2 separate regions of the Homo sapiens genome follow, and region 2 is linked to region 1. Evidence: fine-mapped expression QTL. A gene starts in region 1. The other region holds a variant in brackets. All regions are shown on one strand. Distances are from middle to middle.

Region 1 (15,656 bases):
TGGGAGCCCCTCTACGTATGGAGGATCTGGCTTGTGTCTAGGAGGAGAAGAGGCTCCATGGCCAGTGCCTCTTAGCCAGGGCAGCACCAACCTGGCCTGAAGGTTGACTTCAGCATAGAAGTTGAGGATTGGCCAGCTTTGGCATCAGGAAACCTGGATTTAAATTCTGGCTCCATGCCCTGCCACCTGGTGACCCCCCGACAAATGATCTGTCCTCTCCACTGTAAAATGGGGAACTACGCTTCTTCACAGCACACAAGAGACACACTTTCCAAGGTTTGGGTCAGGGCTGCCTGCCCCTCCCTACCCGCTCCCATCTGACCCCAGAGGACGTGGCATGGCCTCAGGTTCCAGGGGCTCGCCTCACCGCCACCCATGACCTTGAGCAGCTCATTTCCTTCCTGAGGCTTTGTTCTTCCCCTTCTCTGGGAAGGGAGGAAGCTACAGCAACCCTGGCCCACCTGCCCCACCTGCCCCGCTGCTGGGCAGCAATGAACACAGCACAGTCTGCACACAGGAAGAGCTCAGGAACCCGGTTACTAGAGGACCCCCGAAGGCTCACTGAGGCCGGCTGCAGACTGCCTTTGGCTTCCGGGAGCCACTGAGGGCAGCAGCCAATCGTCTGGTGGGGGGCAACGCTGCAGCTCCTGGGGCTGACAGAGATCACAGGAGGGATGCTGTCACTGAGCTGGGACGACCACAGGGGCCCGGGGAGTGCACACACCTTCTACAGTCTTCACTGTGAAAGCCACCAGTCCTGCAAGGGAAAGCCCAGCAGGCCCAGACTAGAAGGATGGGGCACAGGTGCAGAGGAGGCCTTCTCTGGTCAACCCCTGCCCTCCTCCGAGCCCTCGGAAAGGCTCAGCCTCTGCGGAGCTTCCCTCCCTTCCAGGAACTCCTACCACCTGGCACACTCTCCGTGACACTGAGCCCTTGTCCTCCCCTTGGTGCTTCTTGTCAGTGGCTTTGTCTTCCTAACTGGACTGAAAAATTTGCAGGTATGACTCATTAGTACAAACCTGTGGATTGATGAAATCAGTAAGAGTGGGAGAGTAAGCAGCTATCAGGTAACTCATTGGACCACTGAGGACTTCAGTTTCTTCTTCTGGAAACTGATGGGATTGGAGGAGTGTCTGCTTTTTGTTCCTAGGGCCATAGAGTGGGCATACCCTGGAGATGCCTATGCTTTCTTTTTTTTATCTTAATTCTCCCCTTGACTAAGGTTGGCCTATTCTTTTTTTTTTTTAATCTTAATCTATTTTATAGTTTAGATAAACTCCACCTAATGCTTTTTCATCCAGTGGCCACACGGCCCCAGGAACCTGAGACCAAAAGGCTTTTCTATGACCAAAATTGCAGTCCCAATAAGAATGCATTGTTTTTAGACACAAGGGGACTGAAGGAAAGACAGAACATGAATGACAATCAAAGGGACCACCCTTAGCCACAACAGCACCCCCAGAATTCCCACCTGATGAAGGCACCTGTTCGCCCCATCTTCAGATATAAAATGTCAAACATTTTGAGCTAATGAGCTATTATAAAAGGGCCCTTAAAATAAGCTACTTGAAAACACCTTTTGACAGGCTGAAGCCCACGTGGTCTAATTCCCGATCCAGTTCTTTCCCACACTGATGAAAGGCAGTGTGTTCTTGTCTAAACAACTAAAACCTTTTGCCCCAGGTTGTTTACTTTGTAGCAAGCCTGCCCCCAAGGACCACTCACTTTGAGGACAACAGATGGCTATTGTATACAGCTTCAAACTTTTCAAAGTACTTTCCATTTTCCCCAATTGGTTCATCTCAACAACCCCATACGGGAGGTTTTAGTAGCCCTATTCTGCAGATGAGAGGACAAGGCCTGCCTGAGAGATGCCGTGATGAGACCTGGCTCTGCCCAAGCCCCCACTGCCTAGATCTTGGCAGCCAGGACTCCAGCTGCACACACCCTCTCCCTGGGCTGGGCTCCTCCTGGCACAGCCACCCAAGTGCTACCCTCAGCCCCTCTGCGGGAGGCACGGAATCTGCGTGGATCTACCCCCAGCGTGCAGACTGCCCCCGCCCCACATGACCTGCAGTGTTTATTCCCCTGGGTGGTGATGGGCGGAGGTGGCCACCGAGCAGTCAAGCTAAGTGGATTCCCCAGGAGCAAGGCCTTGGCTTTGGCCCACGATTGCCCCTCACCCCCACAGCACAGCCCAAGCTCCGGCAGACACTGGCCTGGTGCGTCCCAGGCCCTCCACACATCTGTTTCCTCATCTGCAAAATGGGGGTGATCTCAGGCCACCCTCACAGATGTGTCCTGAGGACCGAAGGAGTTCGTTGCACGTAGGAAGTGTGCACACACACCCGGCCCCTGTGCCTGCCGCCTCAGCGTTTGAATTATGGCATCCGTCATTTCTGCAGGCATGCATTCATGCAGCATCTGTGTCTGCACAGCTGCGGGCCTGCATCCCTATGATTAGATCCACGCTCAAGTTCATGTGAACTGCAAGCACAAAGGTTCTAGCAGGGAGGGAAGATCACTCATCCAAGTCCGCCCAAGACTGGGGAAAGCCCAGCAAACTCTTTGGGAGGCGAAGGGGTCCTATCTGAGATCGTGGCCTTGGGAAATTACCCACAGCCTGAGGCATCACTCTGCGGTTTGGGATTGAGGGATTGAGATGGCTTTCCGAAGTCATCTCCCAGGGCTGCAGAGGGAGGGGCTCGCAGCCAGTTGTTCTAGCTGCTTTCCGTCTGCAGCACCACCCCTCTGATGGCAGCATCTGGATCCCCGCACATGACAGCTGGAATCCTAAATGTTCTGGGTTAGTGGTAACTTGTCTGGATTTTAACCTACATCTCTTCCTTCCTCATTGCAACAAGACTTCTCTTCTTGTCCCTGTCTATGGAGTTGAGGGTGGGAAGGATGCTTTGATTCAATGCTACCCTATGTCATGTCTTTTTGGAATACAACTTCCAGGCAAAGGGGAGAGCTTCCTCATCCCCATGGACAGAGAGGTGACCAGGGTTGCATTCACACCCGTTTGTTAAGCACCTGCTGCCTGCAGGCCTGTGAAACACCCTGTTGTCCTGGAGATACAGAGACAAGAGGCCTAGCCTCTAGGATTTGACATTGGGGACAGGCCCAGAAACACAACATGGCAGCACACTGTGGCTAGGGTGGAGGCAGACCTCGGTGCTGGCTGCTGCAGGGACACGGAGGAGGGACGCCCTTCTCAGCCTGGAGCTGGGAGGAGGCTGGGGAGCAGTGCCAGGAAAGGTGTCCCTGGGGATGAGAGCTTCTGTTTCTATTCCAGATTCCCAGAGTCACAGCGCAGAGGGGAGCCTTTGTGCTCATGGCTTTTTGACACTTTCAAAAAACAAACAAGAAAAAAACGGCATGGTCTCTGGAAGAAGTGGAGGAGTGACTCATGGGTGTCTCCCTTCTGCCTGTCTCTAGGCACCTGGGGCCACCAGAGTGCTTCTGCCCTGGGCTTTGAGGGAAGCTGATCACCTGGGTCTTCCTGGCAGGAACTAGCAAGTAGGGGCAGTTTTCAGGGGGTGGAGACCCCAAAGATAACATTGGTCTCAACCTTGATGCTGTTTAGAACCACCCAAAGAGCCAAAGCTCCCAGGTGGTGAGAGACAGGACTAGCTGGATTTCCCAGGCTGACTAAGAATCCCTAAGCCTAGCTGGGAAGGTGACCGCATCCACCGCTAAACACGGGGCTTGCAACTTAGCTCACAACCGACCAATCAGGTAGTAAAGAGAGCTCACCAAAATGCTAATTAGGCAAAAGCAGGAGGTAAAGAAATAGCCAATCATCTATTGCCTGAGAGCACAGCGGGAGGGACAGTGATCCGGATATAAACCCAGGCATTCGAGCCGGCAATGGCTACCCTCTTTGGGTCCCCTCCGTTTGTATGGGAGCTCTGTTTTCACTCTATTAAATCTTGCAACTGCCCACTCTTCTGGTCCGTGTTTGTTATGGCTGGAGCTGAGCTTTCACTCGCCGTCCACCACTGCTGTTTGCCGCCGTCGCAGACCCGCCGCCGACTTCCATCCCTCCGGATCCAGCAGGGTGTCCACTGCGCTTCTGATCCAGCGAGGCGCCCATTGCCGCTCCCGATCGGGCTAAAGGCTCACCATTGTTCCTGCACGGCTAAGTGCCCGGGTTCATCCTAATCGAGCTGAACACTAGTCGCTGGGTTCCGCGGTTCTCTTCTGTGACCCACGGCTTCTAATAGAGCTATGACACTCACCACATGGCCCAAGGGTTCATTCCTTGGAATCCGTGAAGCCAAGAACCCCAGGTCAGAGAGCAAGAGGCTTGCTGCCATCTTGGAAGCCACCCGCCACCATCTTGGGAGCTCTGGGAGCAAGGACCCCCGCCCCCAACAGTGACACTCAGCCTTGCTCTTAGAACTCACGTACCCTGTATCTTGTTTGATCTTCAGCCCATTGGGTACTTAGGATACCGAATGGCCTTCCCATCTCACAGAGGAGAAAGCCGATTCCTGGAGGCCAAGTGAATTCCCAAACACCGTAGACAGAGCAGGAGCCAGGCGTGGGGTCTGAGGTTTGCAGGTCCAGCACCTGCCCCTTCTCCACTCCGAGTCAGGGGACACAACCTGAAGTCCTGGCTGTGTGCTGCCTGGCATGTAGACCCAGTGGAGATGCTGCCAAAATGAGCAATTGAGGGTTCCCCGGAGCCCCTCTCTTCTGAGCCCCAAATCTCCTCCAGCTATTGTCCCCATGCGCCCGTCGTTGGTGCTGCTGTGCTGCAGCCCTGGCTGGACCTGGATTCTGGTTCAGGGCGGGTGCAGGGACAGGGTGCTCCAGGGTGTGAGGGCCCAGGAGGGCGTCAGGGGTACACCAAGCAGTGGGGAGAGCAGCAATAGAGCATCCCCACTTTTCTCCAAGTGCTCTCCTTCAGGAGCCGGGATGGGAAGGGCAGACGCGCACCATGTGAGAGCCACATGGCGAAGGCAGAGGTGGCTTTGGGATGCTGCACCTCTGAGCCCAGGGAGCAAGCGTTCCTGGAGACAGCAGAGGCCAACAGGGCGGGAAGGGCCCTGCCCACGCCTGGACTTTGGACTCCGGTCCTGTGGGGGAACACATTCCTGTTGTGTAGGCCCCCCGGTTTGTGGCACTTCGCTAAGGCAATGCCGGGAAGCTGATGCAGAGGGGTAAAGTGACAATCAGGCAGTGATTCCCCAACAGGTGAGCAGGACTGGGGAGGCTGGGGAGGCTGGGGAGATGACCCAGTCCACCTCCAGCACCCACCGCTGCTGAGAAGCCAGGCAGGAGGCAGTGGAGGGGAGGCGTTGAGAAGCGTGGAGACAAGCAAGTCTGGACCCTGCTCCGCAGACCAGACACCCCCCAGAGACACCCCCCAGAGAAGGCGGGCGTGGGAAAAGAGGCTAGGCTGGAACTACACCTGGGTGCCCCTCCTGGGAAGCAGGGGGTTTGTGAACACCTCCAAGGGGCCTCTCTGAAGCTGTGCTGTGGCTCTCGGCCTCCCCAGCCCCTGCTGGTGTGAAGAACACAGAAAGGGGTTGGAATAATCTAGCAGCTGCTTGCTGTCCCAGGCTGGCCAGCCCCCACAAAGTGTTCCCATCTGGCCCCAGCCTGCACAGGCAGCACTAGCAGCCCCCCGTGAGTAATTTGCAGGCTCGGATGGATGGGCAGAGCCCAACCAACTTCAGCCAGTGGAGGGAAGGCCTTGGCCTTTGCAGGTAGGGGAGACAGCTCAAGGCCAAAGATTCCCATCAAATCCTGAAACGCCTCTGCCCAGCCTGGCCACCCGAGACCGCACCCAGCCAGGAGCACTCCCCAGAGAGCCCACACACGCTTCCAGGTCTTCCTCCCCAGCCTGCCAACTCAGTCTCAGCATCACTGGTTTCATTTCACTTAAAAAAAATTTTGTTTCAATTTAGCTTCATTTGGTCATTTTAAAGAATAAGTTGTCTGTGCCCCCAGGTAGGGTTATTTTCTATGTTGCCCATCCTCTGCATAAGGCGTCACTGTCCCTGGGAATATACAGGGATTCTATGCCTGGCCTCGGAAACTGAAATGAAATAAATTTGCACCATGAGAGAGTAGGTCCAACTCTGCACAAATTAAAACAAAACACAACAAAAAATGTTTCAGCCAGAAGTAACATTCGACATGGTCTACCCCCATCAGCTCCTTTTACAGGTGAGGAAGTGGAGGCCTAAAAAGCTGGGAAGACTTGCTCAAGGTTATGCTCAAGGTTACATCCACCTCTTCCTGCAGGGTAGAGGCTGGAGGGTCTCAGAAAGGCTCCCTCCCTCCCTTCCTGCTTCACAGCTGGGGACTGGAGGCCCAGATCCAGACCCAGAAGCTGGAAAGAAATCCCAGGTTGTGAGGCCCGTCCTCCCACTCAGCCCCCAACTCTAGGCCTGGGACCCTCCACAGCCCTCCAGGCACCAGGGGACCAATCGGGATGGAACCAGCCCCTCAAGACCCAGGGCCACTACCTAGCAAGTCCCTCCTTATCTGGGTAGCCTATACCCCCCACCTTGCCTTCCCCAGACCCTGTGCTAGGGACCCCTGCCTCAGGAAGTGAGCCCTACTGAACAGATGGGGGGCGGCATTTGTGGCTCGCGGCCTCTTTCTCTGTCCCTCCCTCCCGGCCTGCCCCCTGCCCTTCGAAGAAATTGAATTCCAAGGAGGAAGAGGGGAGAAAGAACACCCAAACCCCTGCCTTCTCACTGCATAAATACCTAAATCCCGGGTCCTCCAGAGCCTGCCTGGAGCCTGCCAGCCGCTGCCTGCGGTCCTGCCCACAGCCTGAGGTCCCGGCCTGCACCTCCTCATAAGCCCACACTGGCGGTGCCATGCCATGGGCTCCCCTGGGCTCCCTCTGCCGCCCAGCCTGCCCCGCACACTCCACTCGCGCCGCCCGCCCTTTGCTGCAGGACGGGGCCAGCCAGGGCAACTCTCCGCAGCCCAGAGCTCTCGTCCCTTGAATCCTGCCGGTGGAGCAGGGGGCAAGGGGGAGCCAGGCACGCCCAGCCCCGGACCCGCAAGCAGGGACCCTCGGGGCGGCGGTCCGCACAGGGCAGGGGCTGCTGGAGACCCGCGGCCCCCACCCCCGACACTCACCGCGCGGTGCCCAGCGCGCGCCAGGGCTCCCATCAAGTCCTCTCGGAGCCCGCAGCAGGCTCCCACTTCTGTTTTTCTCTGACAGCCATGCAGGCAGCAGGCCTTCAGCCAGGCTCCCCGCCGCGCTTCCACGCACGCACACTCACAGTCACGCTCGTGCACACTCGCACGCACACGCACGCTCACGCTCATGCACACTCACACTCACATTCGTGTACATGTACACATTCACACCCGCATGCACACTCAAACTCACGCTCACGCACACTCACGCTCGTGCACGCGCACGCATACACACGCCCGCGCTCACACGGACACGAGAACTCGCCCCGCTGCGCGCCTGGCTCCCGGGACGCCTGGAGCTGGGGAGCGAGGGCCCCGGACGCCTGTAGCCGCCAGGGGAGGCCGGAGGGGCAGACGGGTGCAGAGAGCAGCCGGAAAGGCAGTGCCCGGCCACCAAGAGGCCGATTACTTGAGGGGCCTGAGGTGTGGAGCCCAGGCCGAAGACCCTGGGTGCGAGAAGGCAGCGGCCAGGAGGCCGCCCTAGAGCCTCGGGAGCGGGCGGGGGAAGGGGGATGTCCACGGAGACCAGAGTTGGTGGCTCTGACCGAGGAGGGCCTCGCGCTCCCCACGCCACTTGGCAGGGCTGGGGACACGCGCCCTCTCCCCCCTCTCCCTGGGGCCGCGCAGGGCTGTACCCGGGCTCTGCCCAGATCCCCTCGGAGCGGAAGATGCAAGTTGGCTTTTGTCTGACCCGGTCAGACAGAGCCGTTCTGTGGGATAAAGGCTTAACGCTCCGTGAACACGCAGAAAAAGCTCCGCGCTGGCCCTCTGACAATCCCATTGTCTCGGGCCTGAGCCCGGCGGTTTGGTCTGAAAGCGCCAAGTTCATGACATTTCAAAGAGCAATGATACTGGGAGAGGGGGGTGGGCAGGGGAGGGAGGGGTGTGCAGGAGAAATACATTCCTAAAATACGAAGTAACAGTATCTGACTCCCTCGCCAGCGCGTTCCTCAGCTCAGCCCCCTGCCCCACCCTCCACGAACCCATTCAGACCGAATCCCCTTCTCCAGCCCCGTGTGGACCCAGAGCCAGGCTGCAAAAGTCAGGATCACCAGGGACTGCGGTTTGGAAGGTGAAGGTGTGAAAAGATGCCCAAGTAGCTGCGTGGAAGCTTCCTGGAATGTCAGCAGAGTGACAGCAGCCGTTTAGCACAAGCTCCCATTGTCTGCACTGCCCCACAAGATAAGAATTTGCCAAAAAGGACTTTAGGTGCCCACATGAGTTTATTTTAAAGAGCTAGAGTGTTACTGTTTTCTTTCATTTGTATTACTGTTCGTACTATATCCTTTAAAAAAAAAACTATTTTCTGAGCCAGGAAGCAAAGGAGCTTCCATTTTTAGTGTTTAATTTGTTTAATGTGCCTCGGCAAAAGCAAATAATTCCTGAGAGAAAGCAGAATCCTCAGGAAATTGAATGTGTTTTGTCTCCAGCGAAGTTTCCCTTGAGTGATTTCGTTTGCTTTCTGTCTCGCCAAGCAGGCTCTGCACTGGGACCTCCAGCAGGCTGGGGCCAGGCTGGGCAGTCTGCAGCCCCTCTCCCCACCTTAGGTGGTGAGGCTTCTCTGATCCTCAGCCCACTGGCCAGGTAAACTGTGCTCCCGAAGAACAAAACGTAGCCTTGTAGAGTCATTCTAATGCGAGGAGAAAATAGGATTAGGCCAGAGTGTCAGCCAGGTAAGTCGGATTAACAGCAAGGTCCAATACATTTTGGCATTCTTGTGCTATTTTTAATTGTACAAAGGTATATGCTTCCCTTCCCTGGCTTTATTTAAAGAGGCTGTTTGTTTGTGCCCAAGAGGTAAATGATGAGCGATAAGGCTCTATGAGGAATTGGAAATGTATAACCTTGCAAAATGACATTTCGCCCTGGAAAGTGTGACACGCACACACGGGTAGATAAAGGGAGAGTGCGGAGCGTCCCGGGCTTTGTTAACGCTTCTTGCCCCCTGGCGTTGCTTTGATGGAAGGACACCCCACGCCTGGCTGCAGAGGTGTCTGCCAACGGCAGGAGCTCCTTCCCCACAGGCAGCCAGGCAATGACTACAAATCGATTCATTTTAAAAAAATATCCAAAGTCAGGTGTTAAAAAACGTATGAACCAGGATGGTAGGTCATTAAACCGTGGGAGAAAAGAGTTGGCAAAAACCTGCTTATATTATTTTTTAAAATATATATCTGTATTGCATTTTGCCACATGCAAATTTAGTCTAGGTTTGTTAATCAGGATCATGTGAGTGTGTCATAAATTAACATGATTTCTTCGGGGCAAGTCAAGAGAGAATGTATAATTGTTTAAGTTTGCAAATCATTTAGCAATTAACTTGGGGGGCAGAGGGCTGCAGTTCCCGGGTGGCCAAGGACATTCATGAGCCATGTGGAAGTTACTGAGTCGAATTGTAACTGTCCATGGCATTTCTGACCGTCCTTTCCAGGCCAAATGACAGACAGAAAGCCAGAGGGGACAGCACTGAATCCAAATGCTTTTGCATTCTGGGTGAGTGTGAACTGAGGGCACAGAAGCTTGGGGCCAAAGGAGAAGAAAGTTGCATTTGATCAAAGTTCCCCCTTTTGGGCAGAGGGCTGAGAGTGAGGATGACCAAGGGGTTTTGGCTTCCCTTTCAGACTCTGCATATGTGAGGTGGCAGGGCAGGGTTTAGGAATGTCATTTTCCTTAGATAGAGAAGGGTGTTCCCAAAAGAATTGTCCAGGGGTCAGGATTCTGGGAAAGCCATAACAGATGTATGTCTGTGAGGGCTTCCATCAGCTCGTGGAATGTTTTCTTCCTGTTGCAGAAACAGAAAGAGCAGTTTGTTGAATCTGAGAGTCGGTTTTGCCGACCTTGTTTAACTGCTGTCTGTCTGAGAGCTTCTTGCAGAGACGCTGGAGAATTCCTGGGGCGGGGGTTATTTCAAACTCAAGAATCTATCATTCCATTTTGATTAATCTGGTAAAGCAGGGTTCTGTTTCTCTTTTAAATTTTTTCTTCTTTTCCATATTTAACATAGATATGCATGTACATGAGAAGTAATGGACATTCAAAAAGCCAGATCCTGCTGATTCCACATTTCAATGGCTTGGTTTGCCAACTCATGCATGGGTGCCTCTAAACACTAATCAGTAATCCAGTTCATTGCTAAGGCTGCAGAGCTCCAGGATCTCTTATTTTCTCACAGGTGGGAAAAGACCCCCCGACCTTCTTGGTCTAAGCTCTCTTCTGGTTACTTGGTACCCACATGTTTACAAGGTATTTATTTTCATTAGACCTCCGATCGTTCTAAAGGCCTGCAGAGCCCAACCCTTCCTGCCTCCTCCTCTCCCCATCTTTAAGCTATAAAACCTTGGCGGAGTTTTCTGGGCTGTTCTCCAGGTTTTTGTTTTCCCCACTGTCCAGCATGGTACCTGAGATTGAGTGCAGGTGCAGCCGGCAGGACACAGTGGCTCCAGCGCCAGCTTCCGCTCCATCTCTACCCCATCCTTCTCCTCTGACTTATTTTGCTGTAACTCTGCACTTAATCTGATGAGGAAGGGTCCCTAGAATGTAGAATGTTGAACAAAATTCTCCCTAAAACAGGAGGAAGAGCTGGCCGTGGGGAGCGGGTTCTATAGTAGCTGCAAGTTGACCAAGTATGTAGAAAACATCAAAATGTGTCTCCATTCCCTTTCCTTGGGTCTGGGAGGAATGTCCCTGAGCCGTTCTTCCCAGCCCTTTTGTAACTAGCAGATGCATTTGTTAGAGAGGTCCTCTTGTTATCCCTGTTCTCAGCATTGTTCTTTCAGCTAGAAATTCACAGTAAAGGTGAGCCATCCTCCGAGGCCGAGGGGCATAGCTGAAACTCAGCAACAGGAACAGAAGTGAACCTCTCTTCACCATGTGTATTCGTGGGGTGGGGGTGGTGAAGGGGAAAGGAGATAGTGTTTGATTTTGTGAATCCAGGGTGAGGCTACAGGGACCCCAGAAGCCTCCTCTTCAGGCCCTTCAGTCAGCAAAGGCGGCCTCCCATCCCCAAGGCGCAAGCAGCGCAGATACCATCACAGCCGTAGCCCAAGCGCGCGGGCCCTCGGCCACTGTGTGCCTTCCCCGGACGTTGGTCTATGCGGAGCAGCCCTCAAGCCTGACTGATCCGGGTCTGCATCCCGCGGGTCTGGACGCGAGCTGGGCATCCGACCGCACCGCGGCGGGACGGGGAGCGCGGCCGCCTGGAGCTGCTTCTTCTGGGCGCTGGGCGCACGCTGCCGAGCGCGGGGCTGGGGCTTCCGGGGGCCAAGCCGGCTCAAGCCCGCACAGGCTCGCGGCGGGGCTGCCTGGCTGCCGCGTCTTGGATCCGGCCTGGGCCTGAGCTCCTGGACCTGGGGTTTTGTTTTGTTTCGTTTTTGTGGAGGAGAGGGGGTTTGGAGACATGAATTGCACTGGCATGGTGTAGGGGAAATATTTGGAGATAGTTGGCAAGAATTCATCCCCAGGTCCAAGGAGTCCAACTAAGCCCGGTTTTAGGGAAGCCCAGCCAGATGTATCTTGAGACAGAAAAGGACATCGTGCTAGGTCTGTGGGGCGGACGCTGAAGAGTTGCCCCGCTAGGAATTTCCTTCCTTTGCAACCGTGAAGGGCTCGCTGCTGCAGTCCAGTGAGCCGTGGGACTCCAATGCCTGCTTCCCACCGCCAGCCTGTTCAGGGGAAATCAGATCAAATCCACCTGCAATCACAACTCCTTTATCAGCTGGGGGGCCCCAAATCTAAAGGGAGAAATGGGACGCTTTAGGAGCCCACCTAATTTGTGATGAGAAATGGAGAAGGGGAAATTCATATCCAATAATAAACTGCTGTAAAAGTAGGTTTGGAAGAAGAAAAGTGAAAACAGTACATATGTTTGTAAGTATGTGCTCATATTTATTGAATATTTGTCTTCTCTAAGTATAGCTTTATTAGGTGTCATAAAACCCCTGAGTTGAGCAGAGTCCAAAAGCCGTCTTTTGGCCAAGCTCACACACATCAGCTCTCTTCCTGGGTGTCCCCCGTGCATTTTATTTATCTTTCAGTTTATTCAAACTTATTTTGAGCCACATGAAGGCAGTTTTATTTGGCTAGTAGAGATTGTGTTTAATTCATTGAGTATGCATTGTCAAAGTTTAGACGTCAATGCCAGCCTGAATTCCAAATTGGGAAGTTAAATATTTGTTTTTAATTTTCTGGCTCAAAAATGTTAACTAACAGAAATGATTCTTTCTGCTCTAATGTGCTTGCATAAATGGGGTTATTAGAACTTTCCCCTAAAACAACATTTGCTTCCTGTCCAGACACGTTGTGTTTGGAAACTTCACTCCTGGAAGAAATTTTTAATATGTATAAATAAAAAGTAAATGCCTGGCCTTTGAATGTTTTGGTACAGAGGCTTATAGGAGGAGGAAAATGAGAATGCAGCATTCCTATCTCAGTAGCTTGATTACAGACAAATTTAGGTTGTGGTGGAAAAGTATTAAAGGGCTTGCATTACAGAAAATATTGACACCAAAGTCCCCTTAATGGTTGTCCTTTATAAGATATGGAATTTTGTAAAGAATTTCAAGGTTTAATTTGCCAACTCTTTTAGGTTTGTTGTATTATTGTGCACTTAATCTATTTATACATACTTCTTAAATTCCGTGATTTGAAAATGACAGAGAACACAAATGCAAATAACTTCACACATAACCCTCATACTATTGGGAATGGAACCAGGAAAGACTACACCTTCTCTGTAGAGGTGTATTTCCAGTAAATCAAATTGCAGACAGTTTAAAACATGATGCTCAAACTGAGACCTCATATGCGAGTGAAAATGAACTGACTATAGAGATGTGACTCACTATAAAGAGCCAGAATTCCAACAATCTTCAAATCTGATTTTTTTAAAAGTGAGCTTTCCGGAAACAGATCTATCTAAAGCTTGGCGAGACGAGAACCCCATAACAACCATCTAGATAACTGTGCCTTCACTAGCATGTCACTTATTTCCTCCTTACTTGATTCTCTGACTTGTTCTTGAAGGAAGCAAGGATGCCTCCTGCCTACATTTGGGTCTTGGATTGACTCACTACATCACAGGACTGCTGGGCTCCAGGATGCGAAGATCCAGCCACAACTGGCACCAGAGAACAAGAGAAGCTTCCTTTCCATCTCTGGTGGCCTGCTCACCAAAGACCCTCTGGTCCCGTCAACTTGGTGTTAACTCTTGGGTGTAAATGCCTTTGAGAAAATACCCACTGCACCTCCTACAGTGAATCCCACTGCTCACACAGGGTTTGTATGAAGTCTGCCCTTTATGGGCCATCTACACATCTCCTGTATAAGATACAGAAGGTGAGTCTACAGTCGTACATAGGAAGAGCGACCTAGGATTTAGTGGGCCAAATACAACCACGAAACGTCGCCTGGCAGCCTGATTCCACAAACGCTGTAACCTTCCTCCTCCCTCCTGTGGGGACTAGGAAAGAAAAGAGAAAGAGAGGCACAGCCTCTGGTCTCGGAGGTAGGCAGGAATGGAGGGGTTTCTAAGGGCAGGTCATCTCCTTTCAACAAACTCAGAGATTTGGCAAGTCACCAGGTAATTCTTTCAACCACAAAATCCGCAGGCAACACAATTTAAAATCTCTTGGCAGAGACTTCCGGAAGTGCTTCCTCCCTTCTTTCTCTGGAGCTCCAGCTGCAGGACCACCGTGAGGAAGCTGTCACCGCCGCTAAGGCTGGCTGCCCTCTCTGGGAGTTGCACTTCCTTCCTCCGGTCCCTAATCTGAGGACTGCTGGATTGCAGACTTGGCAAGTCCAGTGTGTACCTACTGTTACCCCACTGGAGTCCTGATGTGGCGGGAGGCCTGGTGGAAGGGACAGGGGGTATTTTCCCTTTTAATTTATTCAATGTTTTGTCTTAAAAACAGAGGGAGGGTAGGCAGCGATCTTACCTGTTATTAACTTTCCACCCCCGCTGCCATCCCCTTAGCTAGAAGAGCCACTGGTTTTTATTTTTGTTTTTATCTTAATGACCTTTCCTACTTCCCCTCCCCTACACTGTTTGAAACCCCGCTGTGGGGTTTGACTGACCCGACCTAGGGTGCTGCCCTCACGTGGACGCCGGCCCTGGGCGTGTCGCGTGTGCGCGGGGACGGCTGTGCGCGCGTCTCTGGACGAGACCAATTTCTCCATCGCGCAGCCATCCCCGCGGACGACGTTTGAAAGGCGGACTGAGGGTGGAGGAGGTCGCGGGGAAAGCGGACCGAAGGGAAAGAAAAATCAGAAAGACCATTAGGATCTGTCCGGGTGCCTGAACTCTTCCTCCTTCCCTAAAGGACCCTACCAAGCCGGTGGCGGCGAGGACGCAAACACCATTGAGGGGGCTTCCGTGGGTCCGCGGTCTCGCGCTCCGCCGTGCAGAACGAACTGTTAGTGGGCGCTACTGATCGCGCCGCGCTCGCGGCCTCGCCCCATTCACACGGCCCCGCGTAATGAATTCGTCCATTTAAATACATTACAGGAATATTGGAGATTGCGGAGGACGTGACACTTGACCCTGCAACCCGAACCCCGCAGGGGCAGCCGCCGCCTTGCAAAGTAGCAGTCCCCGAGCAGCGCCGCGCGGCGGTGGCCGGCCAAGCCCTCCGGGAGCTCTCCGGGTCCCCTTCCTCGCCCCCACCCCCGCCTTGCTCGCAGCTTGCCTCTGTCGACCCCTTCCCGCAGCCGCGTTTCAATCAAACTCACTGAGACGGCACCGAGCGGGCGCCGGGGACAAGAAACGCCTCGCCAGCGACAACGCGCGAACAAGCGGAGCCGCGGGCCCCGGCGCCTCCGCCCACACGCGCCCCGCGTGCTGAAACCCGCACCTGGCCCACGGGTAGCCGGAAAAGCCGGGTCCCGGCCCGCCCGCCGGGCCGCCCCTGCTCCCGCTCCCCCAGCTCCAAGCGCTGCGGCTCAGAAACCCACCCGCCCGGCCCAGCCCCCGCCGGAGCCCTGCACCTTGGGGAGCCGGAGGCTGGGGAGGGGACCAGAGAAGGGGAAGAAGGGGCATCGCCCTTCTTCCTACCCTGGGACAGCGCCTGGACTGGAGCTGGGTGCCGAGGAAACGACGGGAAGAGCTGACAGAGAGGCGGAGGGAGAAAAGAAAGGAAAAGAGGCAGAGACGAGGAAGGGAAGAAAGGGATCCGAAGTGACCCGCCCTCGGGCCTCCGCGCCGGTGATGCCCCGCGCCCAGGGCGAGGCCGTGCTTCGCGGGCATGAGAAGCCAGGAGGCAGCGGAGTGCGGGTCTGGGGCACCGGGGACATTGCCAAACATAATTGGGGTGCCAAACTGGGCTTCTTAATCTCGAAGCCAGGATGGGCGGGTGTGGCCGGGGGTGCGCGGGGTCAGCCAGCTTGGGGTGCTTTCCTTCGGGGCTCACACCGGCAGCGCGGACCGGCCGAGGCCGCTGGGACTGCAAGTCCGCCGCCTGCTTTTGTTCTGGGTTCTGCTGTAATTT
Region 2 (15,656 bases), 22 kb before region 1:
GAGGTTGATACTATTATTATCATCCCCATTTCCTAGACCAGAAAACTGAGGCACAGAGAGACTGAGTAACTCCCCAGATCACACTGTTGGCTGGAGGGGTCAGCCCTTGGTCGCTCTGTGGCTCCAGCAATGTGGTGGATGGGTGGTGGTCATCTTTGGGGCTGACAGTTGGGTTTTAGGGCATATGTTTAAGACTGTCAAATAAGGGGGAGGCACTAAGGCACCTCCACATCTGCAGTGAGTGTCTGCTGTGGGTGAGCCCTGTGGGGCCTCAGTGGTAGGTGGGGGACGGCACATTAGGGCTGGGCTTTGCAAGGGGTCTCTGGAAGGCCTTCTGAGGAAGGCTCACCGAGTTCCTCAGAGGGAGGCTGTGGGAAAGCAGGAGGGGAGAGACCCCCCAGATGACCTGGAGGGACCCCCTCTTCCTGGGAAAAGGAGGTAAGAGTGGTGGGGAGGCCTTGGTCGGGAACTGGCAAAGGTCACAGTGAGGAAGAGGCACATTACGGGCCCTGGAGCAAGGTCACAGTGGTTAGTGAGGAGGCAGGGAGCCCCAGGGGACTCCTGGCCCAAGAAGAGGGAGGAAACTTGGGGGTCTCTATTATTAGATGTTGGCAGAACAATGGCTTCCCCATGATGTCCATGATCAAATCCCTAGAACCTGTGGGTCTGTTGCCTTGTGTGGCCCGGGGGACTTTGCAGATGAGACTGAGGCCCTGGAGACAGGAGAGTGTCCTGGGTCTTTCCTAGCTAAGGCCAGGGGCAGGTGTGACTAGGAAAGATGGCCAGACAGAGGCAACTTTGCTGCCTGTGAAGATGGAGGAAGGGACCATGTGCTAAGGAATGTGGGCAACCCGAGAAGCTGGAAAAGGCAGGAAACTGTTCCCCTCCCAGAGCCTCCAGAAGGACCCAGCCTGGCCAACACCTTGACCTTAGCCCAGTGAGACCTGGGCCGGCCCTCTGGCCTCCGGGACTGTAAGGTAATGCATGCGTGCTGTTCCAAGCCACTAAGCTTGTAATTTGTTACAGCAGCCACAGGAAACTAGGAAACTGATACAATATGCAACAGGGCTTCCAGCCAGGAGCTATCCCCCAGTTGGCCAGGTCTGGAGAAGCGGGGGCTGCATTCCTATTCATGGTAATTACAAGAAGAAGGGCATCTGGCGAGGAATGTCATCTCCCCTAAGGCAATGCAACTTACAAGGACTAGCCTGCTTCTGGGACAGGGGAGCAGAGGGGATGGGTTACCCCTCAGATCTCTGCAGCCCTGCTTCCAGGAGAGATGCTATCTGAGCAATTTCCTCTGCATGGTGCGGTGCAGGTAAGTCATCAGCCAGGTGACGCAGGGCAGGAAGGGGAGACTTGACTCCGTGGCTTCAGACGCGGCCATCTGTGCATTCCTGCTGACCCTTGGCTCTCTCCTGACCCTTGGCTCTCTCCTTAGCATGGGAGCATGATCCCCGCGTCACCAGGCTGCTGGCTGGCCCAGGTGCAGGGTCCTCAGGGAGTCCCAAAGGGTGCGTGAAGTGGAGCCTGGGCATTGGAGCGTGGCCCCTCTCCAAGGATACCTGTGCGCCTGGACCAGGCCCGTCCTGCGCCCCCTCCCCGCGCCCCCTCCCCGCATGAGCGTGGGCAAGGCAGGGAAGCAGGTGGGGGATACAAAGGGTAAGCACATGCATGCATTCACACAACACACTCTTCTATACACACAGACACCTGCGCTCTCACATGCGTGCGCACACACCCTCACAAACACATTCACACACAGACACGCACAAGCACACACACAAGCACCGACACACTCACAAGCACAGGTACACTCACACACAGAGATACACTCACACAAGCACACACAAGTACACTCACACACAAGCACAGACACGCAAGCACACTCAGACACACGTGCAGACACACAAGCACACACACACCATCCTGAAACCATTTCAAAGTCACTGAACCACCCGGACTGCCACTCAAAGCTATGGCCTGATGGCTCTGAGCAACCGAGTCCGCTTGGGTTTCGTTCTTGATCTTTTCAAATGAAACCCCTGCACCCTGGGAGTCTGTCTGTGCGGCTCCTGGCCCCTGGCTGAGGTGCTGAGCAAACACCAACCAGGTGAGAGCCAGGTGAGCACAGCCTCGGGAGGAGGGACTCTGCGGATACTGGGGGCCAGGCTAGGAGGGGGCAGCCCCGTGAGCCCACAGCCCGCCTCGCGTGCTGCGCTCTGCATCCCCCAGGAGACGTGCCCCCACCAGTGTCTCATGGCACAGAAGCGGCGGCAGAGGCTGGGACACGGTGGCCCCCTTGCTGCAGGGCGCTGCCTGTTGGTGGCCACGCAGGGCTTGCAGGGTGTCCTCCACCCTCCCTCAAATCCCTGTGACTGCCCAGTGCTTCTCTCTGAAGGGCTGCTCTGTTCACCCTTCCTGTCTGCTGTGGAAGTCCAGCACAACACGTCAAGTGCACAACATCACGAAAGTCTGCCTGCGCGCCCACCTACCCATGACCTGGACCTAGATCCAGCTGTTCCCCTCGGCAGGCCGGCTGCCCTCCGGCCTCGGCAGTCAGTTCCCTTCCCCACTGCGGCCAGGACTCCACAGCTGCGCCACAGACAAGCTTTGACAGCCGTGAGCGGCACTATGGGTTAGCGTGAAGGCAGTAGGGGGTTCCTGCCCCACCCCAAGGAATTCCCCGCCGTAGGTGCCACTGTGTCTGGAACTTCACTATTACACACTCATTCCTTTAGGCGATTTCTCCTTTATTCCCAGGAGGTACAGCAGGTCAAGAACATCTACACTAAGGGGTTGACAACTGTCAGGTCCCGAGGGGCGCCGGGCCAGGCAAGGAGACGGTGGCTGGGGCGGGAAGAAGCAGAGAGCCCTGGAGGGAAGGTGGAGCCGTCGCTGCTCTCTCCAGCTCAGGGTGGCCTGCCACACTCCCACACCGCACACTCCCATAACCCACACTCCCACACCACACATACCCACACCCGACACTCCCACACCCGACACACCCACACCTCAAACTCCCACACCGGACACTCCCACACCCCACACTCCCACACCCCACACTCCCATAACCAACACTCCCACACCACACACACCCACACCCCACACTCCCACACACCACACTCCCACACCCCACACCCCACACTCCCCACCCCACACTCCCATAACCAACACTCCCACACCCCACACTCCCACACCCCACACTCCCACACCCCACACTCCCACACACCACACTCCCACACACCACACTCCCACACACCACACTCCCACACCTCAAACTCCCACACCCCACACTCCCACACCCCACACTACCAAACCACACACTCCCACACCCCACACCCCACACTCCCACGCCCCACTCTCACACTCCTACACTCCACACTCCTACACCCTACACTCCCACACCCCACACTCCCACACCTGACACTCCAACAACCCACACTCCCACACCCCACACTCCCAAACCCCACACTCCCACACCCCACACTCCACACTCCCACACCCCACACTCCCACGCCCCACTCTCACACTCCTACTCCCACACCCACACTCACACTCTCACACTCCCACACCCCACACTCCCACATTCTCACACCCCACACTCCAACACCCCACACTCCCACACCCCATACTCCACACTCCACACTCACACACTCCACACTCCCACACCCCACATTCTCACTCACCACACTCGCACATCCCACACTCTCAAACCCCACACTCTCACACCCCACACTCCCACACCCAATCTGACACCCCACATTCTCACACCCCACACTCACCCCACACTCTCACACCCCACACTCCCACACTCTCACACTCCCACACCCGACACTCTCACACCCCACACTCCCACACCCCACATTCCCACACCCCCCCACAAACACAACACTCACACCCCACATTCACACACCCCACACTCCCACACCCCACACACTCATACCCCACACTCCCACACCCCACATTCCACACTCTCACACCCCACATCCTGCACTCCCAAACCCCACACTCCCGCACCCCGTACCCCACACTCCACACACACTCCACACTCCCACACACCACACCCCACACCCCACACTCCCACACTCTCACACCCCACACTCCCACACCCCATACCCCACACTCCACACTCACACACTGCACACTCCCACACCCCACACTCTCACACACCACATTCACACACCCCACACTCACACCCCACACTCCCACACCTCACATTCTCACATCCCACACTCCCACACCCCACACTCTCACACCCCACACTCTCACATCCCACACCCCATACTCCCACACCCGACACACGCACACCTCAAACTCCCACACCCCACACTCTCACACCCCACACTCTCACATCCCACACCCCATACTCCCACACCCGACACACGCACACCTCAAACTCCCACACCCCACACTCTCACACCCCACACTCTCACACCCCACACTCTCACACCCCGCACTCCACACCCCGCACTCCACACCCCACACTCCACACCCCACACCCCACACTCCCACAGCCCACACTCCCACACCCCACACTCTCACACCCCACACTCCCACACCGCACACTCCCACACCCCACACTCCACACCCCGCACTCCACACCCCACACTCCACACCCCACACCCCACACTCCCACAGCCCACACTCCCACACCCCACACTCCCACACCCCACACTCCCACACCCCACACTCCCACACCCCACACTCCCACAGCCCACACTCTCACACCCCACACTCTCACAGTCCACACTCTCACACCCCACACTCCCACACCCCACACTCTCACACCCCACACTCCCACACCCCCACACTCTCACACCCCACACTCTCACACCCCACACTCTCACACTCCACACTCTCACACCGCCGCTGCTCCTCTCAGAAAGTGCCTGGCGGCATTGGCTCTGGGTCTGGGGCCGGTCTCTTCATAACCGCAGCCCCCAGAAGAAATGAAGACTCATCCCTGGAGCCAACACACCTTAAAGCCGTAAACACTGGACCGAGACCACTTGCATTTGAACCCCAGCTCTACCGCGGGTGAGCTGTGTGACCTTGACTGAGCGTCTTAACATCTCCCCACCCCGGTTTCCACATTTTTGAAAGGGTGACAACAATAATACCCACCTCATGGGGTGGTTTCAAAGATTAATTTAGTTAATATTTATCAATCACGCAGCAACATGCCTGGTTCGGGGTAAGCGCTCTATCTGCGTTTGTGAAACGAGTTAAAGGAAATGGCGCTATCATAGCACAGTCAGGCATTTGATTCTTTCCTTCTGATCTTTGATGTTCCATGTATACAACCAGGAATTTTTACATGCATAATTGCCTGGGAATTTCAACTGCATATGGTAGCACTTTCTGCTTTCAAACCATTTCTGAGGTGGTCTGTAGGCCCCCAGTTCTGCTAGATGCTTTCACAAGTAAACACTGAGAAGAATGCCTGATCCCTGCCCTCAGAGAGGTTGGTGGATTTGGGAAGACAAGAAGAATCCACATGGTTCAGGAGGAAAACCTGTGGAGAAGCCTGTAATGAGGAGCAAAACTGTGTGCAGCCGAGCGGAGGGGCGGGCATGGTTGAAGTGGGGCCAGGCAGCAGCCATGGTGGGGGTGACAAGAACCACAGCCGCTTCCTGCTGGGGCGTCCTGTGGGCTTCACGAATGCCACCACCTAGATGAGGACACGAAGGCTCAGAAAGGTCACACAAGACACACGGCTCACAGTGGGGAGGTGGGGCCTTCTGCCCATCACCTGCTCGGCAGCCCTGGTCCTTAAAGAACGCTCCGGTGAGGGGATCCGCATGGCCCGGCTGAGCTGGAGTGTGGACTCCTGGAGACGGTCCAACCGGACGGGGAATGTGTCAGGAGGAAGGAGCTGCTGGGAGGCCAGGAGCTGCTGGCAGTTCCCACCCTGCCCGGGTAGCACAGGCCCCCACAGGCTGTGGGCGGGAGATGCTGAGGGTTTTTTGAGCCAAGGGGCTCTGGAGGAAGGCAGAGGCCCAGAGCCACTGGCACCTCTGAGCAGGGGTGACTGGGGCGAGGACTGAGTCTGGGGTCCTGTAACCAGTCGAGTCGTACTGGGCGAGCCGAGGGGACCGTGCCTCAGCACACAGGTGGAGGGTTCGGGGGCAGCCTGTGGCTCTCCCAGGGACCGGCTGCGTCTCCCCTTCTAGCTCTGCCCTCTGCTGTGTGTCTCGCAAACACCACCCCGTGGACTGTGAAAAAAAGATTTCAGAAACTGGGAGAATTGCTGTCAGGCTTCCAAGCCAGCAGCACAGAAAAGGCAGAAAGACACCAGGACGGTTCTCTCGAACTCAGTTTAAATATGGAGGGATTTTGTCATTTTTTTAAACAAGAAAATCTTGTTTGATATTCTCTTTCTAATTGATTCTTCATATTTTCCTTTAAAAAATATTTCAAGCAGCTGTTTCCTGATAGGAGAGAAGCAGGGAACTGACACCCACAAATTCCTCCGGGCGGTGGTGCTGGGGCCGGGGCAGCGGGGCAGGTGACCCCAGGCGCAGGACGCTCACCTATGCTGCCTCAGCAAGTCGGGTGGGCTTGAATCCCCCTTCCAGGGCCGCAGCCTGCAGAGCCACCTCCTCACAAGACCACAAGCAGGCCTGGGCAGGCACCAGACGGGGAGACGGGAATGCTGGCCCTGAGCTCAGCCCTTGACCCGGTGGTGGGGCCACAGGTGCCATGTAACGATGATGGGTACCACTTGGGGATGAAGGCGGGGGCCTGTGCCAACTGACTTCTGACCCACAGGAGCCCTCTCCACAGCGTGAGTGGGGACGGGACCAGGTGGCAGCACCTCCCGGGATGGGCTCTGGTCCTGGCACCTCCCTGGGCGAGTGCTGGGCCTGCTTCCTCCCCTGCCCAGTGGAGAAGAGAGCAGCCGCCCTGGGGGAGCTGTTCTGGGGAGAGGGCAAAAAAGGGACAGGGAAGGCTTTGAAGGGGATGCTGGTGCAGTCCCTCAGGCGCCCCACCTCTCAGGAAGATGGGCCCCGCTGGGGGGCCCGTGGTGTGGAGGCCACGCTGCTGCCCGGGCTGAGGGACCCGAACCTGCAGGCCCCAGAAAATAAAAGGGTGGAGTCACCCACCTCCAGCCTGGGGCTGCACCAGCCCAATCCCCAGCCCCAGCAGGGGCTGCCCACCTCCAACTTCCCCACCCCATGGCCCTCCTCCTGCTGTCGTCTCCCCATCATAGTTCCTGCACCACACGTCTCTGGAACCGTATAAAGTTATGCGTCTGAGTGGCTGACAGCAGCCTCCAGGCTAAACTTTTGATCCGCTGTGTGCTGACATCTTCAAACCAGAGCGGGTCTCTCCCTCTCTGTTCCTGGGTTGGCGGTGGCAGGTCTCCTGCAGTATATGGCATGCAAATAAGCAGGTCTGCGCTGTCACTCCCTAGCTGCCAGACCCCTGCCTGGTGCCTGGAGGTGGCTGTCCCTCCAGCCACCTCCAGCAGCGAGGCCAGAGCCCTAGGCTGCTCCCCACCCCTTTGTTTCCTTCTGGGAGGTGCTGGTGACCGAGGCTCAGGAGGGCACCTGCCCCTAGGAAGGGGCTCCCCCAGGGATCCCCGCAGTAGAGAGGGGGCCACTGAGGGGTGGGTGGGCAGTGGCTGGGGGCTGCCTGCATGGACTGAGCTTCCTCCCAGGCTCAACCCCCACCCCCCATCAAATCCACCTGACTCGCAGAGGCTGTTAGAACTGGGGGGCTGTGAATCTGGCCACCTGGCCTGGTCCCATAGCTAAGGTTCAGTGGGAGTCTCAGCCCCAGCTCCTGGCATGGGGTAGCTCAGGAAAGGGGCTGGAGCTGACAGGTGTGATGAGGGTGAGGTGGGTGAGGTGGGTTTGGGGCCAAGGGGAGCCTGGGAAACCAGGTGAGAGGTATGGGAGGCTGCAGTGGGGCCAGGAATCCTGGGTCTCATCCTTGTTCCCATGCCAGCAGCACAGGCTGACACTTTGTCACAGATCTACTGGGTCCCCACCACTTAGCCCCTCTGTCCAGCCTCCGCAGCCCCTGGGAGTAAAGCCCTTTAATCTGAAGACTCAAAAACCCATCTCTTCCTGGAGCCAGAGGCCCAAGTGGCTGCCAGTGAGAGTCTGCTGCCAGCCCTCCCTGCTGGGCTCACCCACGGCTCCCGCCAGGCGCACAACAGCATCTGCGGACTCCTGCCCTGGCTCCTGGGTCACTTCTGTCTCTGGGAGAGGCTTTGGGCTTGAACCCTGGCAGCTTCATTGGACAGCGGTCCCAGCCTGCATGCCAGGTCCTGTCAGTGTCCTGGAGGGTCCTGTACTGGTCCTGGTCTCTAACCCTGTGCGAGGCCATTTGGGCTTACTTTTCTCTCTCCGAGATCTGCTCCTGGTTGCAGCGTGGTGACCAGTGAAATCTTGCATTTCTCTGCTGTGCCCCCAATCCCTCCAAAGAACATGGCCTCCTGGGATGCTCTCTGCCCTCCAGGCCCTCTGCCCGGCTCCCTCCTCACCCACCATGCCAGGCGCACGACACCCCAACACCGCAAAGACTTTCAGTCAAAGTATCCTCCCCTCCCTGCTCCTAACACCCTTGCTCTCCCTTGGAGGTCCAGAACAAAGAGGTCATTTCTTCTGGAAGGACCTCTTGTTCCCATGGCTACAAAATCCTCACTATTTACTCCCTTCTCTGTGGGCACGACCAGAGACAGCACTGCTCTTGTATTTCTTATGATGAAGATCAATGGGATGTCCTAGTGGTCTTCTGGGCATCCACATGATTGCATCATGGGTTG[C/T]AAGCCCCCAACAGAGAAAGTCTGTGCACCTGGACCCGCTCTTCCTTCTATTATGCACATAACCTGCCATGTTACAGGTTAGGGGAAGCACATAAGAAGGTGTGTGCTGTGGGCTGAATCCCCTGAATTCATATGCTGGATCCTGATCCCTGGGACCTCAGAATGTGACTGTATGTGAAGCTGGGGTCTTCACAGAGGTCATGAAGGTTAAATGAGGTCACATGGGAGGCCCTAGTGTAATATAGCTGGTATGCTTATATGAAGGGGGGATTAGGACACAGACACACACAGAGGGATGCCCTGTGAGGAGACTGCTGACTGCAAGCCAAGGCAGGGGCGGGGGGAGGGGAGGTCGAGAGAAACCAGTCCCTGCTGACACCTTGGCCTTGGACTTCCAGCCTCCAGAGTTGTGAGGAAGGAAAGCTCTTGTTTAAGCCACCCATGGTATTAATATTTGCTAGGGCAGCCCCCAAAAACTCAGACAGTGCATGTGTGGTGAACCAGAGATGGCTCTCAATTCTTCACCGCCTGTTACAGATTGGTGCCTGTCTGACCTGTGCCATGGGGTTCTGCAGGGTCCCCGCTGTGGTGGACGGAGTACACATTCCTGCCCTGGGACTTGGCCTTGGCCAGGTGACTGCTGCCAATGGAACATGAACAGAAGTGACAATACCCCATCTAAGCAGAGACACTAAGTATGATCCACGGCCTGGTTTGCTCTCTGGCATCTCTGCCATCCACTCAGGAGAGTGTTCCCAGACCCCACTGATCCCAGAATCAGAAACATGTGGAACAGACTTGACCAACAGCCTGACGCAGGGCTGCTCATTGCCCAGAGACCCCAAAGCAAGAAAAACACACGTTTGCTGCAGGAAGCCATTTCCATGTTGGGGCCATTTGTTATGCAGCCTTGTCACAGCAGTGGCTGACTGATACCTTAGCAACCTCATTTCCTGTCCCACACCTGCCTCATTCCTTCTGCTTTCTACACAGGTGGCCACCGTTATTAGTTTAAAAAGGCGTTTGCTTGGTGAGGAAGAAGAGGGAGAATCAAGCAAAGGCATTTGGACTTTATTCCACAGGCAACGTAGATCAGTGGAAGGTTGATGAAAGGGAAGTTCCATGATGAAATCACCGGGGAATTATTCTATCAGTGCTCCCCAGGCTGCTGGAGAAATGAGGGAGGAAAAACAGACACAGAAAAACCTGGTCATGGTTTTTATTATTTCTCTTAAATTCAGCTCCACCCCATCTCTTCAAAGAATTTTCCTCTTTGGTTTTAATAATGTGCTTAAGCCACAAGTTGAACAGTCTTCCATCCTCCAAGCTGTCTTCTGGCTGAGGGAGGCTGCTCTGGGCTTGGTGGGCGGTGGAGGAACGGGTAGCGGTTGGGGACTGTGTCGCAGCTGGCCCAGCCACTCTCCCTTTCTTGGGGTGTACTAATCTGACTCCCAGAATGGTGCCGACTCTTTCCAAGGCTTCACATTCCTCCTCCTCTAGCTCGGGGGAAAGTGAGTCCTGATTTAGACTTCTGTAGTCAGGCAAAGAATTTCTGAATGCAGGGGGCTACTCCAGGCTGGATGAAAAACCCACTTTCATGCCAGCTGGGTTTCTGACAGAAATGCCACAAGCTGGCACCTGGCAGTGTTACTGGGCTGGCAAAGTCAGAAAACTTTGAATTTGTGCAGCTCACACGGTGCAGCCTTCAGCATTTTACAGACGTGCCCATGTGACTTGCATCTTTGAAAGGGGATGGTGTGGGAAGTCATGTTAGATCACCTCTGATATGATTAGGACCTAATGGTGTTATTTGAAGTTCCAGCTCAAGTCCAGTCAGGTCACAGTCACTGCCACAGATCAGGAAATCGTGCTGACCTGGATTCCTCGGTTCCCCCTTGTCTGTTTAATTGACGGCCACTTTCTCATCAAGGCCATCAGCAGCCAGCACACAGGCTTTTTAAAAATTAGGCCTCAAGAAACAACAATAACAAAGTAAAATCTGTCCTGATTTTTAGGCTTAACCTTTGAAAATGTTCTCTCTCTAAAGAGAAGAGGTGCCTTCAGTCCAGTGAAGAGCGCTGGGCTGCTACCCGAAGCATCTGCACGGGAAGGAAACGAGATGAGTCGGTGACTCGTTGCCACAGGGGCACGCATGGTACACGCAGCACAGCACCAGGAGCTGGAGCAGGCTGCACAGGGCGAAAGTCAACAGGCACACGGTGGGCTTGAGGGGCTTCTGCAGAGGGAGTGGGGGACAGGAGTGACGCCTGGGTGCCAGTCCTGAAGGCACCTCTTCTCTTACATGCTTGGACTGTGTGACCGTGACAAATCCCTCTCCCACTGTGAGGTTCATCCAGAAAATGGGGTGACCTCACAGCCTCCCCGGAGTTCTGTGAGCGTCAAGGGGACACCATGTGGAAACCCCTAGCACCGTGGCTGTTTGTGGGTGCAGAATCGTGTGCACGAAGCGAACAGAGGCTTCCACGTGGCCTTCATCTCTGCTTCTTTCGCAAAGCAAACCTTGGCCCCGAGATGACAGCTGCTTTGTGTTTTACACCCTGGGGCTGAGTCTGCCAACTGTCCCATGGTGTCCAGACTCCCCTAACTCCTTTCAGCAATGGAACCTGGCCAACGAGTGTCAGCGGGGCTGCAGCTGGGGTGGCAGGGGGGTGTGCAGAGACGCCCTCTCCTCTTGACTCGTCCTCATGGAGGAGGCTGCTTGCCATCCGCTCTCATTTCCCACTCCCTCCACCTGCAGCACGGATGTGGGGCTGTTGCCCCTCAGTCACCCAGGTGAGGGTGATGCCCCAGGATGGCAGGGCAATGGGACGGGGGAGCCCGGCCCCGGGCACCGTGGGAATGCTGTGGACTCTAGGCTGCTGGTGGGAGGGAGTTTTCTAGGGCTGCCTCCAGGGTGCTGGCCACATCCCAGCATCGCACAGGGTTGGTCCTTTTCCCCTCATCCTCATAACACCCAAATGAGGCAAGCACTATTACCTCTGTAAGCGAGGAGACGGAGGCGCACAGAGGTTCACCAGCTATCTAGAAGCACCAGAGCTGGGGCTGGAGCCAGGCTGACTGCCCCGGAGTGTGAGCTTGTGGCCGTGATCAAGCCTGGCTGGCATCTATCACAGTCAGGCACTGTGTGCGGCTCTAGGCACACAAAGGCCAGGTCTGCAGGGGGATGCCAGTCAGAGGGGAAGGGAGACAGGTTGCCCTGAGGACAGCAACGTGGTCAGTGCGTCAGTGCTAGGGCAGGCGGGCGGTGATCTCAGCGGGAGGGACAGGCATCTCCGAGGCAGGGGACGGGTCTGCCAGTGGTCCCAGGTGCTGTGCTTCCTCCCGCACTCCTGCCTTGAGGTTTGTGGCCCCACCTGTCACCTGTCCTTCCTCAGCCTTTTCTGGTCGCCAGAACGCCTCCTTGCGTAGTAGTAGTTACAACTACTGAACCCTAATAGTTACTACTACTGAACACTAATAGTTACAGGAAAATTGTCAGGTGTTAAGTAGAAGTGTAAAATTGAGACTGTTTCCCTGGCATAAAAAGAATTGAACACCAGAGTTGTGGAGAGAAAGACATCTTGGTCATGGAGAAAAAGTTCTGTTTATCTCTTCTCGGAAAACTGCGGAACTCTCGGATGCCACCTTAGAGAAGCCACACAGCTCAAGAGATGTGCTGGGTCTCCACGCAGCAGGGGAAGCAGGAGCAGAGGCAGGGCTGGAGAACAGGAGGAGGAACGTGGCAAGGGTGTGGCTGGCAGCTGGCGAGGCTGCAGTCCATGACGTGGGGGGATTCGGTGGCAGGGGTAGCCTGCAGGGGGCGGCAGTGAGCGGAGCGCACCCTGGGTGGTGAGTGGAGGCCTCAGCTCCAGCCTGGCTCCGGCTTGCCACGTGAACATGGAGGGCTGGCCCCTCGCCTCCCACCCTTTTCCCTCCTGGTGTCTTTGGACGGTTCAGGGCTTCCTAACTTCTCGAAGACTCAGTGTCTTCTTCTGTGGGGGCAGCCTTCACAAAGTGCCACAGACCCGGGGGCTGAAAACAGTGGAAATGTATCCTCCCACAGCTCTGCAGGCTGGACGGCAGAGACCCAGGGGTCAGCAGGCCTGGCTGCTTCTGGAGATTTCGAGGGAGGGTCTGTCCCAGGCCCTCTCTTAGCTGCTGGTGCCACTGGTAACTCTTGGCGTCACGTGGCTTATGGATAAATTGCTCCCGTCTCCGCCTCCGTCTCCACTTGGTCTCCCCCAGGTGTCTCTGTGTCTCCTCTGGTCTTAGAAGTGAGAGGTGACAGAGTGCTGGCAGTCCTCACAGCCCTCGCTCGCTCTCGGCGCCTCCTCTGCCTGGGCTCCCACTTTGGCGGCACTTGAGGAGCCCTTCAGCTCGCCGCTGCACTGTGGGAGCCCCTTCCTGGGCTGGCCAAGGCCGGAGCCGGCCCCCTCAGCTTGCCGGGAGGTGTGGAGGGAGAGGCGCGGGCGGGAACCAGGGCTGCGCGTGGTGCTTGCGGGCCAGCGTGACTTCCGGGTGGGCGTGGGCTCGGCGGACTCCGCACTTGGAGTGGCTGGCCAGCCCCACCGGCCCCAGGCAGTGAGGGGCTTAGCACCTGGGCCAGCAGCTGCTGTGCTCAATTTCTCGCCGAGCCTTAGCGGCCTTCCCGCAGGGCAGGGCTTGGGACCTGCAGCCTGCCATGCCTGAACCTCTCCCCGCACCCCCCGTCCCCTGCCTCCCCGCCCCCCCCGCCCCCCGCCCCCCGCCTCCGTGGGCTCCTGTGCAGCCCGAGCCTCCCCAACGAACACTGCCCCCTGCTCCATGGCGCCCAGTCCCATCGACCACCCAAGGGCTGAGGAGTGCAGGCGCACAGCGCGGGACTGGTAGGCAGCTCCACCTGCAGCCCCAGTGCGAGATCCACTGGGTGAAGCCAGCTGGGCTCCTGAGTCTGGTGGAAACTCGGAGAACCTTTGTGTCTATCTCAGGGATTGTAAACGCACCAATCAGCGCCCTGTCAAAACAGACCACTCGGCTCTACCAATCAGCAGTATGTGGGTGGGGCCAGATAAGAGAATAAAGGCAGGCTGCCCGAGCCAGCAGTTGCCACCCGCTCCAGTCCCCTTCCAGGCTGTGGAAACTTTGTTCTTTCTCTCTTTGCAATAAATCTTGCTGCTGCTCACTCTTTGGGTCCACACTGCCTTTATGAGCTGTAACACTCACCACGAAGGTCTGCAGCTTCACTCCTGAAGCCAGCGAGACCACGAGCCCACCGGGAGGAACGAACAACTCCAGACGCTCTGCCTTAAGAGCTGTAACACTCACGCGAAGGTCTGCAGCTTCACTCCTGAGCCAGCGAGACCACAAACCCACCAGAAGGAACAAACTCCGGACACGCCGCCTTTAAGAACTGTAACACTCACCGCGAGGGTCCGCGGCTTCATTCTTGAAGTCAGTGAGACCAATAACCCACCAATTCGGACACAGAAAGACACAGTCATGTTGGAGTAGCCCCTGCCCACTCCAGCCTGACCTCAGCCTAACTCATTCCATCAGCAAGGACGCTGCTTCTGAATAAGGCCACGCCCTGAGGTTCTGGGGTGAGGACTTCCACATAGCATTTAGGGACACACAATTCAGCTTGTAACACTCGGTTTCCTCAACTTGGAGGGAAACACTGTTACCCACCCAATAGGGTTTTTGAAAGGATTAAATCATTAATGCATAGAAAGTTCTTTGCACTAGAGCTTGGCCCATCTTAAGAGCCACATCAACATGACCTATTATTACTGATATCTTGGGAAGAGTTTTGTAACATTCTGTGCCATGTTAAAGGTGAGGTTTGGGCTTGGGAGCTGGATGGTCTGAGGCCATGGAGACCCAGGTTTTCTGCTTACATCTGGACTAAGGCCTTGTGAGACCTCAAGTGTTTAAAAAGCAAACCCTCTAAGTCTGTGTTCGCTTCCCTTTGCCACGGGGGCACAATTGCTGCTCAAGAACCCATTCCCTGATAACACAGCAGGAGACCAAGCAGGCTGTGCGGGGCCACGGTCACTAACCGGCTCTGGGGCACCCCACGAGCTGCCCCCACCAAGGCCAACTTCCAGCCTCAGAAGAGAAGAGTCTGAACCAGGCGCTGCAGAGATGTGCACGGCCGGCTCGTGTGAGCCAGGAGCCAGCTCCAGCAGAATGTGACTCTGAGAAGAGCCTCTCACCACCTGCCCTATCCACGGGGAGTGTTTCCGCTGTATCCCTGTGTCCTATTTCATAATCGGTGGCCGTCACCGCTGTATTGCTACTCACGTTGCAGCCTTCAGTCAGCTCCCCCTGTGGGTGCCAATGTGTTTAAGTACAGATTGAGGTTGTCTGGTTTAAATAGGCCGCCAGGGTGATTCCAATTCATCGCCCTTCGCTTCACTCTTCCCTCCTCAGGTGAGATCCAGTCATGCATTTATTGAGCTACTTTTTGTGTGTGTGTGAGACAGGGTCTTGCTCTGCTGCGCTCTGCTGCTCAGGTTGGAGTCCAGCGGCGCCATCATGGTTCACTGCAGCCTCAACCTCCTGGGCTCAAGCGATCCTCTTGTCTCAGCCTCCCGAGTAGCTGGGACTGCAGGTGTGTGCCACCACACCCAGCTAATTTTTTTTTTTTTTTGTGGTAGACATGAGGTTTCAATATGTTGTCCAGTCTGATCTTGAACTCTTGCACTCAAGCGATCTGCCCACCTTGGCCTCCCAAGGTACTGGGATTACAGGTGTGAGCCACGGCACCCTCTCTGTTGAGCTACTATTATGTCTCAAGCACTGTGGAGGGTATGCGGAAACAGAGAGTAACAACCAAACCAAAACAAGGTTCATGCCTGCAGGAGTGTCTTCACCAGCTAGAAAACCCAGGTTCCCA

Alleles and levels. Positions count from the first base shown, and alleles are read on the strand shown. Sizes are in standard deviations (SD) of each study's normalised expression.
For the expression in nucleus accumbens of the gene that starts at base 7,353 in region 1, C is the low allele of the variant in region 2 and T is the other (moderate effect, 0.71 SD a copy in GTEx).

Evidence for each region. PIP is the estimated chance that this variant, and not a neighbour inherited with it, causes the effect. A credible set is the group of variants that fine-mapping cannot tell apart.
Region 2: its variant is the best candidate, but not a certain one, in a credible set for the expression of LINC03010 in nucleus accumbens (GTEx, PIP 0.66).

Annotation. Positions count from the first base shown.
Region 1 is chr7:155,373,773-155,389,428 of GRCh38, reverse strand. It overlaps LINC03010 (long intergenic non-protein coding RNA 3010), which reads right to left and starts at 7,353. Exons shown (of 3, transcript NR_147174.1): 1 at 7,114-7,353. RefSeq lists enhancers at 6,484-7,295, 7,296-8,107, 10,843-11,343, 15,494-15,656.
Region 2 is chr7:155,396,111-155,411,766 of GRCh38, reverse strand. LINC03010 (long intergenic non-protein coding RNA 3010) reads right to left here. Exons shown (of 3, transcript NR_147174.1): 3 at 9,985-10,878. Among named protein-coding and RNA genes, the nearest start is that of LINC03010, 22 kb to the right of the region's middle. RefSeq lists an enhancer at 2,531-3,253. The variant C/T (reference allele first, on the strand shown) is at 8,780.